2 separate regions of the Homo sapiens genome follow, and region 1 is linked to region 2. Evidence: fine-mapped expression QTL. A gene starts in region 2. The other region holds a variant in brackets. All regions are shown on one strand. Distances are between the middles of the regions. Region 1 overlaps HEATR3 (HEAT repeat containing 3). Region 2 holds the start of HEATR3 (HEAT repeat containing 3).

Region 1 (4,393 bases), 27 kb before region 2:
ATTTAAGACCAGCCTGGCCACACGGCAAAACCCCGTCTCTACTAAAAATACAAAAATTTTGTGGTGACGCATGCCTGTAATCCCATTTACTTGGGTGGCTGAGGCACGAGAATCACTTGAACCCAGGAGGCAGAGGTTGCAGTGAGCTGAGATCATGCCACTGCACTCCAGCCTGGGCGACAGAGGAAGACTCTGTCTCAAAAAAAAAAAAGATTTAAAAAAAAGACCAATGATAGAGAAATTATTTACAACATATCTATCAATTAAGTTGTATTGATTAAAAAGCACTTGTTTTGCTAGTAAGCCTATATATTAAAAAATTTAAAAAATTAAATTAAAAGCACCTGTGTGTTGCTGATGGTAGGGAGCAGAAAGATATTACTTTTTATTTTAATCACTTTTGTTTTATTTTTTACAAAGATCACATATTATTCTTGTAACAGAAATATGTATTTTTTAAAATAGTGAAGTAATGAATTTTGCCTCCATAATACACAATCTTTACAAGTTTCATACAAAAAATTTTAAAACTCTTACCTGGGAAATGTTCTTGGAGGCCATTGTTTGCAAAAGGGCCCTCAAAGCACTACTTATGGCTTCTAGAAAGTCAACATGTTTAGCAAAATCTAAAACACAAAAATGAAATATAAAATTTGCATTTCTCCAAGATAGGCTATTTTGTAGAAGCAACAAACAAAACAAAGCATGCTAAATGTTAATAAATGCTATTCTTAATAAAACAAACAAACAAAAAAAAACCCTCGATATTTAAGCCAAAATATTTAGTTAACAGCCCCCTGTACACTCTATACCTAAGTCTGAAAGATGATCGTGGTTAAAATAATCACAGCAAGGAGGTGTTCTACAGACAGTCCTTGACTTCCAGACACTGGGTTTTCATTTGACTCACACTTCAGCACATAATAAACCTAAGCTAGCTTTTGCAGACTGAATTCTGTCATTCATAGATCTCCATCAGGGTGCTGGGTAGAACTACCTTTGGTGGAGTCAGAATGCTTCCTTGCCAACCCAAGCCCACTGCTTAGCCACACACTGTTGCTTGTGCAGAGCCAGGACATGATGGCACCATCACTTTAACTGACCCAGCATCCCCTTCCCACTCCTACTCCTTATTCGCACACTTTTCTTATTGTCCCTTCTTCCCACACGGGACAAACAGAACACCAGCAGTAAGCCATTATGCTGGCACAGGCACGTGCAAGGGACAGTGAGGGTCACCCAGGGGAGTTGGCTCCTTAACCTCTTTGATGGGAAGAGATTTGCTTGGTGTGGTAGACTGTATTTTCTAAAAATGGCCATGGCAATATTTCAAGTCCTGTGTGATCTTCAAGAACCTTGCCACTTCCCATAAAGATGTGAAATCTACTTCTCCTTTCCTTAAATCAGGGTGGGACTTTGTGACTTCTTCAACCAACAGAATACAAAGTGACGGGCTAGGTCACAAAAGGCAGTATGACTTCCAGCCCTGACGCATGTGTGCATGCTCTTTTTTCTCTCGACTTCCGCCCTGGGAACCCAGCCATCCTGTTATGAGGAAGCCTGCGTCACATGAAGAGGTCACTGTGGGTGTTCTTCCTGACAACCCCTGCACCAACTGCCAGACACGTGAGTGAACAAGACTTCGGATGATTCCAGCCCATACTCTGCGAGTCTTCCAGCAGAGGCCCTAGACTAGTATTTCTCAGCCTCTGCACTACTGACATTTTGGACCAGATAATTCTTCATTTTATGTGTGCGCAGGGGTCTCCTGGGCACCGTAGGATGTGAAGGAACATTCCTGGCCTCAACCCTCTAGACACCAGTTGCAATTTCCAAGTTGTAAAACCAAAAATACCTCCAGACGTTGCCAAATGTCCCCAGGTGGGAGGTGGGAGGGGATAAGTGGCCATGGTTGAGAACCACTGGCCTAGACATTGTGGAATAGGAAAAAGCCATCTCCACTGTGCCCTGTCTAAATTCTTGACCAAAGGAAACTTCGAGAAATAATAAATGATTGTTGTTGTTGTTAAGTCACAGAGTTTTGGAATAACTTGTTACGTAGCAATAGATACACTCACTTCCTGCCCCACAGTTCCTGGGACTTATACCATTCCGATCCCCCACTTTTAGGTTACCCGGGTAGAAGAGAGGCAGCTTCTGTTCAAATTCTAATCCCGGCTGATTGTATTTTTTGGCTCTTTCATTTTCAGATATGTATTATGTACCAAAATAGGGGATTTCCCGTAATGATCACAGAATAATAGGAGAGCTTTACACACTCAGCCCTAGGATAGAGAGCTGCCTTTGACATAATTATGTGACTCCTCCTGCCTTCATTTTAGTCTTGGCTCAAATGTTACCTCCTCACAGAGGCCTTTCCACACTAACTGGCCTAGTGTAACGCCTCATATCATTCTGCTTTTACTTTTTTCTTCATAGCTAATATCACATAAAACATTTATTTATACTAGAATGCAAACTCCACGAACATATTGACCTGGCCTATCTTGTTCACGCCTGCATCCCTACCATCTAGAACAGTGTATGACA[T/G]AAAGCATTCAATAAATACAAGCTAAAAGAATGACCTTGGGCCGGGCGCGGTGGCTCACGCCTGTAATCCCAGCACTTTGGGAGGCCAAGGTGGGCCGATCATGAGGTCAGGAGATCAAGACCATCCCTGGCTAACACGGTGAAACCCCGTCTCTACTAAAAATGCAAAAAAAAAAATTAGCCAGGCGTGGTGGCGGGCGCCTGTAGTCCCAGCTACTAAGGAGGCTGAGGCAGGAGAATGGCATGAACCCGGGAGGCGGAGCTTGCAGTGAGCCGAGATCGCGCCACTGCACTCCAGCCTGGGCGACAGAGCCAGACTCGTCTCAGGAAAAAAAAAAAAAAAAGAAAAAAGAAAAAAAAAAGAATGACCTGGAAGAGGTTCCTTAACCTCTCAGCTAAGGTTCCTAAATCTCAGCTTCCTCAGCAGGACAATGAAGTAACAAGGGCTGTCTCATAAAACGTGGTACCTAACAGGCACTCAAAAATCAGAGTGAAGTTGTTAATAGCCTGGACCTCCCGGGCTCAAGCAATCAGCTCCTGCCTCAGCCTCCCGAGTAGCTGGGACCACAGGCACGTGCCACCACGTCCAGCTAATTTTTCTTGTATTTGTAGAGACAGGGTCTCATCATATGTACAGGCTGGTCTCAAACTCTTGAGCTCAAGCAATCCACCCGCCTCAGCATCCCAAAGTGCTGGGATTACAGGTGTGCACCACTCCGTCCAGCCAATTTGTTGCTATTAAACTTCAAAAAGTTACCATATTGACTGCAAAGTGTATATATGATTAAAGCTCTAGGTATAGCCCTATAAAATTATGAATTTATAGATTTATGAATTGCACACAAAGAGGTGATTCAATGTCTTTACTCTCAACAACTTTGAACGATATTTTTTTTTTTTTTTTTTTGAGACAGAGTCTCGCTCTGTTGCCCAGGCTGGAGTGCAGTGGTGCGATCTTGGCTCACTGCAAGCTCCGCCTCCCAGGTTCATGCCATTCTCCTGCCTCAGCCTCCCGAGTAGCTGGGACTACAGGTGCCCGCCACCACACTTGGCTAATTTTTTTTTGCATTTTTAGTAGAGACGGGGTTTCACCATGTTAGCCAGGGTCTCAATCTCCTGACCTCATGATCTGCCCGCCTCGGCCCCCCAGAATGCTGGGATTACAGGCGTGAGCCACCGTGCCCAGCCAACTTTGAACAATATTTAAGAATTTGTAGCATGTCTAAATGTAGGTACATCATCAACCCACAAGTAATTATACTCAGGTGAATTTTTCAGACTGATTTAAAATTTTTTTATTATTATTATGTTTTTTAGACGGAGTATCACTCTGTCGCTCAGGCTGGAGTGCAGTGGCAAGATCTGGGCTCACTGCAACCTCTGCCTCCCGGGTTCAAGTGATTCTCCTGCCTCAGCCTCCCAAGTAGCTGGGATTACAGGCATGCACCATTACGCCCGGCTAATTTTTGTATTTTTAGTAGATATGGGGTTTCACCATGTTTGCTAGGCTGGTCTTGAACTCCTGACCTCAGGTGATCTGCCCACCTTGGCCTCCCAAAGTGCTGGGATTACAGGTGTGAACCACCACTCCCAGCCTGAATTTTTTTTCTTATTTTTAATTAATTAATTTCTTTTTTGAGACAGAGTCTTGCTCTGTCACCCAGGCTGGAGTGCAGTGGTGCAATCTTGGCTCACTGCAATCTTCACCGCCCAGGTTCAAGGAGTTCTCCTGTCTCAGCCTCCCAAGTAGCTGGACTACAGGCACACACCACCATGCCAAGCTAATTTTCGTATTTTTAGTGGAGACGGGATTTCACCATATTGGTCAGGCTGGTCTCAAACT
Region 2 (4,393 bases):
CAGCACTGTGCTAGTCCCTAAGGATATGGAGATAGTCAGAAGATGCCCTCACAATGTGCCAGGATCCCCCAGCCTCTGTATGCTGTGGGAGGAAGGGAAGGGCTTTCCACATGCTGTTTCCTCCCTAAAGGAAGAAGAGCGTCTATCCCCCCTCCATCAACTGGTGAATGCCCATTCATTCCTCCGAGCTCACCTCAAGCACCACTCACTCAGTCTTCTTCCCTGAACCCTTTGTTTGTACCCTCTTTTAGCACCCTTTGTCATTACCATTCATTGTAATCATACACTTATGTAACTGTTTGGTTAATGCTTGTCTCCCTCAATACACTTTAAGATTTCTTAAGGAGAGACATTGCCTTGCTCATTACCCCATGCCCACAGCTTAGCTCAGTGTCTGGCACACAGTTGGCACTTTATACATATTTGCTATATCAGTGAATGAAATATAAATAACAAACAGAGACAGAGCTGTAAGAACTACAAATACTAACCTCTACTCTTGCCCCCTCTGCAGTCCATTCTCTGCACAACCAGCAGAGTGGTCTTCACAAAATGTGTTGCAGCATGTCACTTCCCTGCTTAGAGTTAAGTCCTCAGCCCTACACCATCGTACAGCTCATCCCTCTCTCCAGCCTCACTTCCTGTAATTACCCACCCCTGCTCTTCTCAGCCACCTACCTACCCTCTCTGCTGTTTAACCACGTCAAGCTGCCTGCTGCTTCGCTTCTTTGCTGTTGCTGCTCCCTTTGTGGGGAATATTCTTCCCCCTATTTTCCCATGCCTCCTGGCTCTCTCACCCTGCACATCTCCTTTCACAAGTCATCTAAAGAGCACCTTTTTTTTTTTTTGAGACAGGGTCTTGTTCTATCACCCAGGCTGGAGTGCAGTGGTGTGATCATAGCTCACTGCAGCCTCGAACTCCTGGGCTCAAGCGATTCTCCTACCTCAGCCTCCTGAGTAGCTGGGATTACAGGCACCCACCACCATGCCCGACTAATTGTTTATAATTTTTCTACAGACGGGGTCTTGCTATGTTGCCCAGGTTGGCCTTGGACTCCTGGCCTCCAGTGATCCTCCTTCCTTGGCCTCCCAAAGCAATGGGATTACAGGTGTGTGCCACCGCGCCCGGCCCAAGAGCACCCAATTCAAACTTCCCACCCCCAACTCATCATCATCTCGTTTTCCCACAGCAATTCTCACTATTTAATATTATGTTTTACCTTTTTACTAGCTTCCTGTCTGTCTCCCCATCAACATGACTTGTGCCAAGACAGGGATCTTGGCTGTCAACAGATCTCGCTCAAAAGTCTTGGCTGCTCAAAGTCCCCTGCATCTAGAACGATTCCTGACACATGAACTGAAGAGTTCATCCAAGCAAGGGACCCTAAGGAGGGCTTTTGGAGAGTGTAAAACGTGCGCAAGGCGTGAGGGCAGGACGCCTGAGCAGGTGGACGCTGCAGGTGAAGCAGCCAGGTGGACAGATGAGATGCGGGGATACTGGGCTTCTCCGGAGCCTGGAGACTGGCTTCAAATCTCTGCAAACGGGAGACCGGGCCAGTGCCTGATGGCACACAGAAGGCGCTGGGTGACCGCTGCGACCGCCCGCAGCCCAGACGCGGGGGAGGCCAGCGGTGGGCACCGCCCCGCACCCTTCCTGGCTCACCTCAGCGCGCCGGCTGCAGTCTCCCTGACGGCCAGGCTGGGGTCTAGCAGCAGCGGCCCGAGGCGGCGCACGGCGTCTCGTCGCGCCAGGCCCGGGAGTGCCGGCCGCTGCTGCACCAGCCGGGCCAGCCCTGCGCAGGCGCACTCGCGGACCTCGGCGCTCGGGTGCTGGAGCTGCGGATGAGAGCGAAAAGGGTCAGAAGGCGCGCAATGCGCACGCGCGCGGGGCAACCTCGTCTCGCCTCCCGGCCCGACGGAGCCCTCGCCTCACCTTTTCCAGCAGCTCCGCCGCCGGCCCGTCGTCCTCCTCGCCTCCGGTCCCATTCGCCGCCGCAGCCGCCTCGGCCTGACAGTCGCCCGTAGGGGAGAACTGAGGTCGCTTGAAGCGCTTCGTCCGGCTCTTGCCCATGGTGACGTGCGCTGGGCGGACAGACCACCGAGAGAGGAGGGCAACAGCAGGCGGTGGAGGCTGCCGCGCCGTTAACAAGGTCCGTTGCTGCTGCTCAGCTGGGCCGGCTGACGGCTGCAGCACACATGGGCAAGCCGTGCGCAGGCGCACGGCGCGTCGTCTGCCGGGTCGGGGTTGGGGCGGGGCGGGGTGGGGGGAACTGGCGCACGGAGCGCGCAGGCGTGGAAGAGGGCATAGGCGGGGCCAGCTTCGGCAAAGGGGCGGAGCCTTGTGGGTTTACCGGGTAAGTAGGAGGTTGGACTAGAATAGTAACGCCGACCCGGGCGAGAGGATCACTTGAGGCCAGAAGTTCGAGACCATCTTGGGCAACATAGGAAAACACTCCACTCCCTGTCCTCCCCACCAAAAAAATTAAAAATTATCTGGGCATAGTGGCGTGTGTGTGTAGTCCCAGCTACTTGGGACGTTGAAGCCGGAGGATCACTTGACCCCAGGAGTTTGAGGCTGAGGTGAGCCGTGATCCTGCTACTGCACTCCATCCTGGGCGACAGAGCGAGACCCTGTCTCAATCAATCAATCAAGCAACCAATAAGTTAGTAACACCGGCTACAAATAATCAAATGTGATTAAGAATACCTAACTTGCAAGGTTATTGTAAGTTCTGTAAAGTTCATAAAGTTCTGTAAAGTGCCTAACACCAAGCCTGATATATAGCAGGTACTCAAAAAGCATTAACCACGATTTTATTTTGTGTCCCCAGCACCTCCCATAGCTCCTGTCGTAGACAGAGACTAGTTAATGTTTTGGAACGAATGTGTGTCTATATTTGATAAAACAGAATCGCTTAAGAACCTAATCTCCCTGCCTTAGTTTCCTCATCAGTGAAGTGGGGACATCGATAGTATATACCTCATGGAGTTGTTACGAAGACTAAATGTGTTCATATGTTTAAGGTGCTAAGAACAGAGACTGGCAGATACTAAGCACTATGTAAATGTTTGGAAACGTATTTAACAAAGAGATTCTTTTGCAGATATTTGTTGAGTACTAGGTACAGTGCTGGGCATTGGAATAAAGCAGTAATCAAGACAGTTTGGTTCCTGTCCTCTCTCCCTGTCCTTATGGAATTTACAGTCCAGGGAGAGATCTGTTGAATATATAATTATATGAATAACTTTGGTTATAATTGTGGTAAATACTAAGCAGAGGGAAAAGTACAGGAGAATCTTAGGTGGTCTTTATAATTAGACATGTAACGAGTGAGTACTCAATATATGCATAGCTTTGGGTCAATTTTCTTTTTTTCTTTTTGTTTTTGAAACAGAGTCTCACTCTGCTGTCCAGGCTGGAGTGCAATGGTGCGATCTCGGCTTATTGTAACCTCTGCCTTGGAGTTCAAGCAGTCCTCCTGCCTTAGCCTCCTAAGTAGCTGAGATTACAGGTATGTGCCACCATGCCCAGCTATTTTTTTTTTATTATTATTTTTAGGAGAGACGGGGTTTTACCACGTTGGTCAGGCTGGTCTCGAACTCTTGATCTCAAATGATCTGCCTGCCTCAGCCTCCCAAAGTGCTAGTATTACAGGTATGAGCCACCACGCCCAGGCTCAGGTCAACATTCTACTGGAGAAAATTTCCATTCCATGGTAACCCTACTGTCAAAGAGTTGACTGTCCAGTAAGGGAAATTAATTACTATGGCAAATTTTAGAGAGTAACAGAAGTGTAGCTCATGTTGCATTTGGGCCTATCAAAGATCAATCTTGGGCTGGGCACTGTGGCTCACACCTGTAATCCCACCACTTTGGGAAGCCAAGGTGAGCAGATCACCTGAGGTCTGGAGTTCAAGACCAGCCTGGCCAACATAGCGAAACCCCATCTCTACTAAAAATACAAAAATTAGCCAGGCATGGTGGCATGTGCCTGTAGTCCCAGCTACTTGGAGGCTGAGCCAGGAGAATCTCTTGAACCTGGGAGGCAAAGGTTGCAGTGAGCCGAGATCACGCCACTGCACTCCAGCTTGGGTGACAGAGCGAGACTCCGTCTCAAAAAAAAAAAAAAAAAAAAAATCAACCTTGGAGCCACTAAATATATGTTGGTGGGTTTTACTTCCTGTATATTTTATCAGGCCATCGATCTGCCTGCCACCCACCTAGTCCAGGCAACCGTCTTTTTGTTGTTGTTTTTTTTGAGATGGAGTCTCTTTCTCGTTGCTCAGGCTGGAGTGCAATGGCATGATCTCGGCTCACTGAAACCTCTGCCTCTTGGGTTCAAGTGATTTTCCTGCCTCAGCCTCCTGAGTAGCTGGGATTACAGGTGCATGC

Evidence for each region. PIP is the estimated chance that this variant, and not a neighbour inherited with it, causes the effect. A credible set is the group of variants that fine-mapping cannot tell apart.
Region 1: its variant is the best candidate, but not a certain one, in a credible set for the expression of HEATR3 in testis (GTEx, PIP 0.80).

Annotation. Positions count from the first base shown.
Region 1 is chr16:50,090,938-50,095,330 of GRCh38, reverse strand. It overlaps HEATR3 (HEAT repeat containing 3), which reads right to left. Exons shown (of 15, transcript NM_182922.4): 12 at 538-626. Among named protein-coding and RNA genes, the nearest start is that of HEATR3-AS1, 27 kb to the right of the region's middle. The variant T/G (reference allele first, on the strand shown) is at 2,551.
Region 2 is chr16:50,063,810-50,068,202 of GRCh38, reverse strand. HEATR3 (HEAT repeat containing 3) reads right to left here and starts at 2,233. Exons shown (of 15, transcript NM_182922.4): 1 at 1,934-2,233; 2 at 1,664-1,836. The coding sequence starts at 2,071. It overlaps HEATR3-AS1 (HEATR3 antisense RNA 1), which reads left to right and starts at 1,879. Exons shown (of 3, transcript NR_186390.1): 1 at 1,879-2,150; 2 at 3,396-3,512. RefSeq lists silencers at 1,511-1,770, 1,851-1,900, 2,231-2,280 and an enhancer at 2,131-2,425.